Regions from separate parts of the Homo sapiens genome. Here region 2 is linked to region 1. Evidence: fine-mapped expression QTL. Tissue or cell type: whole blood. Region 1 holds a variant in brackets; the other region holds the start of a gene. All regions are shown on one strand. Distances are between the middles of the regions.

Evidence for each region. PIP is the estimated chance that this variant, and not a neighbour inherited with it, causes the effect.
Region 2: CPNE3 starts here. The variant in region 1 is fine-mapped to the expression of CPNE3 in whole blood (INTERVAL, PIP 0.97).

Annotation. Positions count from the first base shown.
Region 1 is chr8:86,480,899-86,486,281 of GRCh38, forward strand. RMDN1 (regulator of microtubule dynamics 1) reads right to left here. Exons shown (of 10, transcript NM_016033.3): 5 at 3,974-4,063. It also overlaps the pseudogene NTAN1P2. Among named protein-coding and RNA genes, the nearest start is that of RMDN1, 25 kb to the right of the region's middle. The variant T/A (reference allele first, on the strand shown) is at 2,357.
Region 2 is chr8:86,511,799-86,517,181 of GRCh38, forward strand. CPNE3 (copine 3) reads left to right here and starts at 2,637. Exons shown (of 17, transcript NM_003909.5): 1 at 2,637-2,743; 2 at 3,664-3,701. It also overlaps a transcript of RMDN1 not described here. RefSeq lists silencers at 2,606-2,685, 2,806-3,145.

The sequences.
Region 1 (5,383 bases):
TATAGAATATTAATAGAATAATTATGTGCAATGTAAAATATGTTGAATCTCCCTAATTTATATTTACTATGTGAATATAAACTACAGAATAAAGAAACTGTTCCTCCTTTTATCCATTATTTTGTTGAAAACAACTAAAGAAATCTTACAGATTAATGTTCATATTAAAAGGACTCTTTTTGAAAAAATTAAGATTTCCTAGTTTATGCTTTTCTATAAACCCACACTTTTGCTTTCAGTTTAGTAATGTGTGAGGTACACATTTTCAAATATTTGTAATGGTTAAGAGCATGGTCTCTGAAACCAGACTGCCAGGATTCAAGTCACAGCTTAATGACCTTGAACTGGTTGCAAGATCTATATTCTTACCACAACTGAGTTTTTTCTCTTTTATGGAAAAGTCATGTACTTAACTCATAAGGTTGTGGTAAAAAATAAATAAGTATCTTAACATGTTTATATGCAACTTATGCTCTAAGCAACCTTTCTCAATTGGGAGTTCCACTAAAAATTAAGCCCTACAAAAAAATTGTGTAAGTAACTATTTTTTTCTATTTCCTAAGAATGATACAGAAATACTGTAGTCCCATTCTAGATGCATAGGAAGGAAGTTAATTCATCACAATGGATGCCTGGGGGGATCAGGGTTTAATTAATTTTCCTTTTTTTTTTTTTTTTTTTTTGCCTTTGCCAAAATAAGGTTTTATTTTGAAAGTCATTTGAAAAACACTGAGGAAGGAAGGAGAAGACCTAAGACCCAATGGATGTAGGTTCCAAATTTGGATTCTTGCTGGCCCCACCAATGGTCTCTGTCAGGCCAAGAAGGTTCTGCTTTCTTTGGTAATTCCTATTTTTTTAGCTTCCTGGAGAAGAGATCTTTTCCCACAAGCCATCTTCATTTTTTTTGTAGAGTAGGGCTTTATTTCCAGGAAACAGTGTGTTAGTTGGAGCAGTATTTTTTTTTAAAAACATCAAGGTAGATCTAATATGTTCAACAAAGTGGGGTGGCTCGGCCAGACACGAAGTGGAAAGATTCTCTAGTATTTGCTTGTCATCTTGCTGCAAGCAGAAATCCACATGTGGAAATGGTGTCCAGGAGTACAGTCCTATACGAAGTTGTTCTGTCTTTGCATCGTAAATGCTAATCACTGGTCCTCCTGCTAAAGCTCACGCGGCACGCAGCTGCTCCTCTGGACCTCGATCTTGAAAGGAGGCTCTGTAGGCCAGGCACGGTGGCTTATGCCTGTAATCTCAGCATTTTGGGAGGCTGAGGTGGGCAGATCACTTGAGGTCAGGAGTTTGAGACCAGCCTGGCCAACATGGTGAAACGCTGTCTCTACTAAAAATATAAAAATTAGCCAGGTGTGGCAGTGGGCGCCTGTAATCCCAGCTACTTGGGAGGCTGAGGCAGGAGAATCACTTGAACCCTGGAAGCAGAGGCTGCAGTAAGCCGAGATCACACCACTGCACCCCAGCCTGGGCAACAGAGGAGACTCTGTCTCAAACAAAAAAAAGAAAGGAGGCTCTGTAAATCTTTGCAGTCTTAAGTTGACAGCAATGCCATATATTATTAGAAAGTGTTATTCGTTTTCTTCCTGGTCATTTAATTCTGTCACACATAATCATAGTATCACTAAGTGAATGTCATCTTCTTGCCTGTCAAATTCACTAAGAAGTTAATGAGTGAGTTTTTGTGACAACTGCCTCCCACATCACTGAAGCCTCCCACGAGGTATACTTCCAGGCTTCCACATTGAGCGCAGTCGGAAAAAGACTTTATGGAGTTCATGATCAAGGGGACCCCAGCTTTGGTGTCGGTTCCATCACAATGTGTCAAGCAGGTGGCGCCATAACCTGTGTGCAACAGGACCCCAATGTGACAAGTAGTGGCATTATCAGAACCCAAAATGGAGACGGAGCCATCCTTTGGGGAGGTCACTGCGAGCTCTCTTTGCTGAACATACAGAAGGCCCTGGGGTCCCAGTTGTTGAACAGACTGACCTCTGATACATCTGGCTGTTTCCTCCAGAGGCAGGTGGGCTCGGACGAGGTCCCCGGCGGACTGTGGCAGCCGCACTCGCTGCCCCTCGATGAGCAGTGGCATCGTGGAGGCAGCCGCCCAGGCCAGGGTTTAATTTTCTTATGAGAAGGGTTGAGAGGGGTACTTTCAAGCAAACTCTTTTATAATCAATCCTTCCTGCCACTGGTCTTTCAAAAATAATCCAAAGATGTTACCACTTTAGATATATAATGGAATTTGAAATGTAAGCAGTATAAATGATCTTTTTTATATGTAAATACTAAATATTGCCATTTAAAATATAAACATGTACATTTGAAAGCTTATATAAAACAT[T/A]GTTTTTTATAATCTATAACCTTCACTGTTTTTTAAAAAAATGGAAAGTATACATTTGTGTATTTTCTACAGTTCTTCATTATTCCCTTTGGAAGTTATGTCATGTATTTCTACATCCTGAGGCACAGAGAAATTAAGCAATTTATCTAATGCCACTGAGAAAATTACTGTATTTCCCTGAATCTAAAATATCAAAAATGACACACCATTAGTTTATGTGCCACTAAGAAAGAAAGTATCACTGCCAACTACAATGTAAGGTTCCAGCAATTACATCATGTAATCTCATTTCAAGGATTTTAAACTGTGAAACAGGTAAATTGTTACATTATAAAATGTCAGTTATTATGTATATATTACTATCCATACCTGAACAAGAAAAGCTAGGTCTCTGGACTCCCAGTCATTCTTTTTCACTAGTTGTTATATAAACTAGGAATTGACACTAAACCATAAAATTATGAAAAACTATTTAAATAGCAAATTCAGCACTATCCCTATGTATGTTTCCATCATTTTTCCTTCCTATAATCTCAAAAGAGAAATAAATATGCTGGTATTTTTGTGGTAGTTTTTTTTTTTTTTTTTGAGACAATGAAGTTCATCCATGTTAAGAAATATACAGACTCCTATGCAATTCTTTGCACCTAACAGCTTACTATAAATAATTAACTTTAGGGGAAAATATTTTTAATAAAACACACATACAATATACACACAGATATCAATCTTAAATAGAATTATTACTACAAGGAGTGGTGTGTCAATTGTGTTAAAGACTGTTACACTGGACCACGCTTTCCATATTCAGGAACTTGTGTCAATGCTCCCCTCCCACAGAAACTGGGCTTGCCCTTGTGACTTGTTTAGATTAACAGGATATTACCAAGTGTGATGCAAGCAGAGGCTTGCTAGAACTTTGTACATTGGATCTTTTCCCATGGAACACTCATTCTTGGAAGCCGACTACCATGCTATAATGAAGGTTGAGCTAGACAACTAAGTGATAAAAAAACAAGTGAGGAGAAACTCTCATAGGTAAGAGGCCATCTTGGACACTGTAGTCTCAGCTGAGGGCCCAGGTGAATGCAGCTGTCTAAATGACCCCAGCTATACCAAGCAATGTAGAAGTGCCACTGCGCTCAGTTAACCCAAAGAATTGCAAGAAATAACAAACTGTCGGCTGGGCACAGTGGCTCACACCTATAATCCCAGCACTTTGAAAGGCCGAGGCAGGTGGATCACCTGATGTCAGGAGTTTGAGACCAGCCTGGCCAAAATGGTGAAACCACACCTCTACTAAAAACACAAAAATTAGCCAGATGTGGTGGTGTGCCCCTGTAATCCCAGCTACTCGGGAGGCTGAGGCAGGAAAATTGCTTGAACCCGGGAGGCGGAGGTTGTAGTGAGCTGAGATAGCACCATTGCACTCTAGCCCGGATGACAAGAGCGAAACTCCGTCTCAAAAAAAAAAAAAAAAAGAAATAACAAACTGTCATGGCTCTACTCCACTGTTATCATAGGTGGTTTGATATACAGCAATAGATAATGAAAACAAAAATCTATTCAGAAAAATATGACTTTTAAAATTCATGAATTTGAATAATTCATCAGTACCTCAAAATGCTCCTTGATGATATATGCATTTGCAATTTTAGCCTTGATGCCTTCATAATCTCCAACATCACTAAGGCAGATTGCATACCACTGAAAATTTAAAAAAGTGTAAGAACAATAATATTCTTAATATTCCATTCAATACAAGGTAAAACTGTATAATATTCTTCAATAGTCATTCTCATCCAACAAAAAGTTACTGAGCATAAAAACTGTATTAAATGTAATGGAATATATAAAGAGAAGTGGACATGGCCCTCTAGAAACTCAGGAATAGGGTTGGGCGCAGTGGCTCACGCCTGTAACAGTACTTTGGGAGGCCGAGGTGGATGGATCACCTGAGGTCAGGAGTTTGAGGCCCTGGCCAACATGGTGAAACCTTATCTCTACTAAAAATACAAAAATTAGCTGGGCATGGTAGCATGTGCCTGTAATCCCAGCTACTTGGGAGGCTGAGGCAGAAGAATCACTTGAACCCGGGAGATGGAGGTTGCAGTGAGCCAAGATCACACCACTGTACTCCAGCCTGGACAACAGAATGAGACTATGTCTAAAACAAAACAAAACAAAACAAAAAAACCTCAGGGATAGGACATGTTTATAGAGAACTATAATACAAGGTAGAAAGTGGTGAATTTTCCAAGAAAGTTACCAACACAATGAGATAATGGTTCATGTTTATGGTCTGAGTATCAATTTAGAAGAATATGTAATTGAATGTTTTATTTTCTCATTCTCTTTTCTTGGAGTTCCATCTACTCTCACATTGCATTGTTATAGTAAGAACAGCCACAATGTCAACTGTGACCTTGTCTCCACAGCCACAGTTGGACGGCAGACCCAAACTGAGATGACCTGAGTTTCTTTCCCAAGAAATGAATCTAAAATAGCCACACTTCAAAAACCCAGGTGCTGTGGAAAGTCACAAGACTTAGGATAAGGAGAAAAAAAATGTCTGCAATGAAAAAGATTTTCAGGTAACAGCAGAGTAGAGAAACAATTAATGAAGCCTCGGAGCAATCAAGCCAATTGTTTCCCAAGGTCCAACTTCACCCTGCCTTTGGGTTCTATGAAGTCCAACAATCCAGAAGGCTAATGACCACCTCGTCTCCCCGTACGATTTACTGAAAAACGTTGTTGTGAACCAACAAGAAATCCTGAAAGCAGCTAAGTTACATGTGAAAAGTCATTCTAGGTCTCAGTTGTCTAGCTGTTATATTCCTACCTCTAAATAAAACAGAAATATAACGTAAGGAAAATGAGAAAACATCTGTGAAGTGCTTATACTACTAAGAATATAGATATAGGTAATTCATGAAATTACTAAACTCCTGTTTAAAAATAAGCATTCACAAAAGTAATTTATCAAATACATATGAAGTTAGACCAAATGTTTACAAAAACAAAGAC
Region 2 (5,383 bases), 31 kb after region 1:
AGCAAGAACCTGTCTCTCAAAAAAAAAAAAAGAAAAAGAAAAAAAAAAGCTATAAGACAGGATGAGGTAATTAAAAATGTGACTGAAAGAGTGAAGGTAGAAATATGAGGATCAAAATACATAGGAGAAAGAATATTTTGTGAATATCTTTCATTTTAACATGCATTTAACTCTCCACCAGGTGGTGTTTTATTTCTAGAACCTTGTTAGGCTTGGTATCTAACATGAATTCAACACATGTTAAATTAATGGGTGAATGAATGAGAACAAAAGTAGAATGGGATTTAGACTGTAGTTAAGGAAAATGAATAAATACATTGAATAGCTATGGCACTATGTATTTAGATGATAGATTGCTGTTTGGATACTAAAAGTACAAAACCATCCCCTTGCCTCTACTCTTTCCCTATTTTAGTGTAAAGAAAAGTTTTGAAGGTTAGGTATGGATACTATATATTCTGGAAAATTTGAAACTTGCAATCCAATTAGTGGTGCCTAAGAACCTTCATTTACATGTGAAAGTAGAATCAAAAATAGAGCCAGAAACCTTTAGTAAAAACTAAAACACTTGTAGTACCTCCCCAGTACACTTCAGCAACAAAGGCCTTGTTTCTGCACTGGCAGTTTGTTCTTATCTTTGCCCCTGCTACCATTCCTGTGCCCCAGATATTTGCATAACTGGCTGCTGCTTATTTTTCAAATCTCAGATCAAATACCATCTTAGAGAGCTCTTTTCAGATCCCCAGTCTAAATAAGCTCACACTATCCTCAAGTCCCTCTATCACATCACCCTGCCTTAACTTTTCTCATGGCACTTCTGGCTGGCTGAAATCTCATTTGTCTTTAACAACTAACTTAAGATTCAACCGTCCTCTAGGATAGAAGTTCCTGTCTGTCTTGCTCACAAGTCTAGAGCAATGCACATAGTGTTTGTTGAATAAATGAATGAATCCTCACTGGCACTGATACGATTTTAAAAATGTTTAATTTGCAGGCCAGGCACGGTGGCTCACACCTGTAATCCCAGCACTCTGGGAGGCCAAGGCTGGCAGATCACTTGAACCCAGGAGTTCAACACCAGCCTGAGCAACATAGTGAGACCCCATTTCTTAAAAATAAATAAAATAAAAATGTTTAGTTTGCATTTCTTGGATTAAGAGTAAAGTTTTTACTTAAGAATGTCTGTGTTTCTTCATTTGATACCCTTTCCATTTCTTCTGTAATTAAAAAAAACCTTCACCCATTTTTCTATTGGGTGTTTTTTTTTTTCTTATCAATTTAAATGAACTTAAGAGGCCAGGCACGGTGGCTCACACCTGTAATCTCAGCACTTTGGGAAGCCAAGGTGGGTGGATCATCTGAGGTCGGGAGTTCAAGACTAGCCTGACCAACATGGAGAAGCCCTGGCTCTACTAAAAATACAAAATTAGCTGGGCATGGTGGCACATGCCTGTAATCCCAAGCTACTCAGGAGGCTGAGGCAGGAGAATCGCTTGAACCCGGGAGGCGGAGGTTGTGGTGAGCTGAGATCGCGCCATTGCACTCCAGCTTGGGCAACAAGAGCGAAACTGCGTCTCAAAAAAATAAAAATAAAAAATAAATGAACTTAAGATACTAACTCTGTCAGGTTTGGGACCAATATTTTTCCCAATGTGTTTTATTGATTTTGTCCCTGTTTCCTTGGGAAGAAGTTCTAAATTATCGAGCAGTCATGTATCAATATTTTCCATAGTGTTTTGTTTAGCTGCAGGCAGCATGGAGTAGCAAGCAGTCCAGCCTGCACTTTGAGGTTAGTTTACTTACAATTTGTGTGACTTCAGAAAAGTAGGCCAATTATTTAGCTTCCAAATCTCATGTTACTCAATTGCAGTTTTCATTTGTAAAATGGGTATACTGGCACCAAATACATCACAGAATCATGAGGATTAAAGGTAATGAAGGATATAAAATGTCCTTGGTAGTGTGCACATTAAGAATGCCCTAAATAAGCATATAAGCATGGTTAACAGCTAAGATGTATTTCGCTATTTTCATGTTGATAATTTGTCTTGGTAACTTTTTTTTTTTTTTTTAAGACAGGGTCTGTTTGTCACCCAGGCTGGAGTGCAGAGGCACGAACATGGCGCACTGCAGCCTGAGCCCGTGATCCTTCTGCCTCAGCCTCCTGTGTAGCTAGGACCACAGTCGCGTGCCACCACGCCCAGCTATTTTTTTTTTTACTTTTTGTAGCGGTGGAGGGGGTCTCATTTTTTTGCCCCAGGCTGGGGCTGGTCTCCAACTCCTGGGCACAAGCCATCCTCCCACCTCTGCCTCCCAAAATGTTTGGATTACAGGTGTGAGCCACTGCGCCCAGTCTTCTCAGTTCAGATATGGCATAAATTTTCTCAAATATTTAAATTATTTAATCCTTAAGGAATTTATTTTGGTGCACCAAACCACTTACCTTAAAGTCAGTTTTGCCTTTTCAGTAAGCGACTGGCCTCCAGAATGGCCTCGAAGCGCCAGCCTACTGGCAAGGAGCTGACATGCAGCCCGGAGTCAGCTCCCTGCGGATGGGCTGATCCTCGCGCAGGCTGTGCGGGGCGGGCGCGCACTGGACCCGCCCCATCCCCGCCCCCTCCCCGCCCCCTTGCTCTGCCAGTCCAGCCCTAGGTTCTCCTGAATCCCTGCGGTCCCAGCGTCGCTCCGGACGCTGCCAACCTGTTCTCCACCGTCGCTCGACTTCCACCTCTAAGACTCCCACGTGAGTGCGGGCGTCTCCCAGTTCCTGGGCCGGTGAGGCAGCAGCCCAGCAACCGTACCGCCCGGGGGAAAAGGAAAGTCCTGGCCTGGAGGATCCGAGCCCGCAGGCTCCGTGCGGCAGGTCCCGCCGGGCCCTGCTGCTGGAAGTGCTCCGTGGGCTTCGCGCAGCTGGGGATCGGCAGGTCGCGGGGAGGCTCCCGAGCTAGGTCGCGGCCTGGCTGGACCCAGGCACCGCCGACGCCTCCTGGAGGAGCCCGGGCTCGGGGCTCAGCTCCGGGCCGCAAGGCCCCGCCTGGGCCTGGCGCTCGCGCACCTGGGGCTGGGGATAGGCTGGGATCCGCCCTCCTTCCCTGGGCGGAGAGGGTCGGGCTTGTGGCCCAGAGAAGGGTGACAGGTCCCGAAATCGCTGCAGCACCACGCGGGGAGAGGGATAGGGTACCCACACCACGTCCGTGGTGAAGCCAATGCCCAGTTGAGCGGGGGGCGCGCGCTTCAGAGCACCCGAGAAGCTGGCAGATGGAGTGGGAAGAGGTGACTCTTGATTTCAGGGTAAACAAGGAGATTGTGAGAAGTAGTCTAGCAGCTCCCGTTTCTCCTCCAGCTTCAAGATTCTTCTGTCTAGTGTTTTGGGTTCCCTACACCAGGATTGTGGAGGAAGCGCACGGCCAGAACCCGTTGGGACCGAGCAGATCAACCATTTATGTTGCACTTAATGATCATCTGCACTTTTTGCATATCCTTAGTGTTGTCTTTGTGAGGCCACCTCTATAATGGATAATCAAATAGAGGGAAGGGCGGGATTGAATATTGTGACTTGATTTCAATGTCCCACAACAACTGTGCTAGACAGTTTTTATATGTTAGGTTATTTAACGCTCCCAAGCACTTATTAAAGTGATGTTACTCTGTTTCATTCTCCAGGAAACTCAGGTTGAATAATTCATCAAATTACACAACTGGTAAGTGGTGGCATTAGGGTTTGGAATTCAAGTCCGTATGGTTTTAGGGCACAGGCTTTATTGCTTAATGTAAAAGAACATTATTCTTTGGGATAAGCCAGATACCTAGGTTTCAAATCTATGCTATGAGGGCTGTTAGCTGTATGACCTTGGGCAGGATACTTCACCTTTTAGGGCCTGTTTCTGCATTTGTGAAATAGAGATAAAATGTCACAAGGTTGCTATGAGAATTAAATTAGATCCTACTTGTAAAACATTTAGCAAAGTGCTTGACACGTAGTTAGTGGTAAGCTATATATAGCCACATATATCCTGATGTCATTAATAAGGGTCAGCAAACTAGCTCTCTGTGTGTGCTGCCAGCCAGAGCCAAACAGAACTTGTGCAAGCCTAGAACATAGGTAGAGGGAAACAGCAAAGGATGGGAAACGAAAAGGGAACTGAAAACAGATGACATATATAATGGCAATTATAGTGACAACAATAGATGTCTCAGTCATTGATCTGTGGTACCCAGGGCCACTTTTTGCCTTTGCGAGAATTATTAATAGGTCAGTTCCTTTTGGCTGATGAATTGGAAAAATACATCCCACTCTGGGCTGAAAAATTTCAAACTCTGGGACTGGATCATTTTGAGACTCTAGATGTGAGGTGGAGCTGAATTTTAGGACCCCACAGACCAAAAGGTGCCTGGCACAAACCCCACAATGAAGTCTGCAGTTCTCTTTCAGGATTTCTTCTTTCAGGTCTAGTCCCTGAAGAATAGGAAGGGAGAGGAGGCTCCAGGACGGGAGAAACAGAAGGAGTGTTTGCCATTAAGGGTTGCATAATGACTGGACACCTCTTCTAATTTTACCTATAACTGTGAACACTTTATAGACAATGGTCTTCATTTTCATATAAGTTTATGGCAACCTATTATACATTTTAAAATATTTTATTTTCTATGCTCTTTATGATGGTATCACTGCTGCCCTGGGTATTTCCCTTGCAGCATCTGTTTCGGTACCTAGTTCATATTGTACTCCAACACCTATCAATTCTTTTATTTACTTATTTATTTATTTTATAATAAAGATGAGATCTTACTATGTTGCCCAGGCTGGTCTTGAACTCCTGGGCTCAAGTGATCCTCCTGCCTTGGCCTCCCAAAGTGCTGGGGTTACAGGTGTGAGCCACCACACCCGGCCCTATCAATTCTTGGTATGGCTTATCCATTGTTTCCTTTGCCTTCTTTATTTTTTGGTACTATCACTGGGCTTTTTTTCTTACTATTGTTAGAGTTTTCTCTTTTTTCCTCCCTTTCAAATGTTCTTTAGTCAGTGATTTATTATGCTAGAAAGTATGCCTGTTAGCAAAACTATAAAAGTTAATGTTAGATGTGAAAAATGATTATATGTCATTTGACCTTCAAAGATTCATAATGCCACCACTGCTCACCAAAGCATGATATTTCAGGTGGATCTTTTAGCAAGACTCAATGTCACTTCCATTGGTGGTACTCAGTGACCTGCAGGAGTCCTAACTAGAGCATTCCTTTACTGTACCCACCATTACCTTCAGCCTACAATCTAGCTTCCTTCCCACCAATATTTTCCCTTCTTGTTCTTGCTTGTGAGTGGGAATCGTATTGGGGTTTTTTTTGGAGAGACTATTTATTCTTTTAATATAACAGCTTAGCA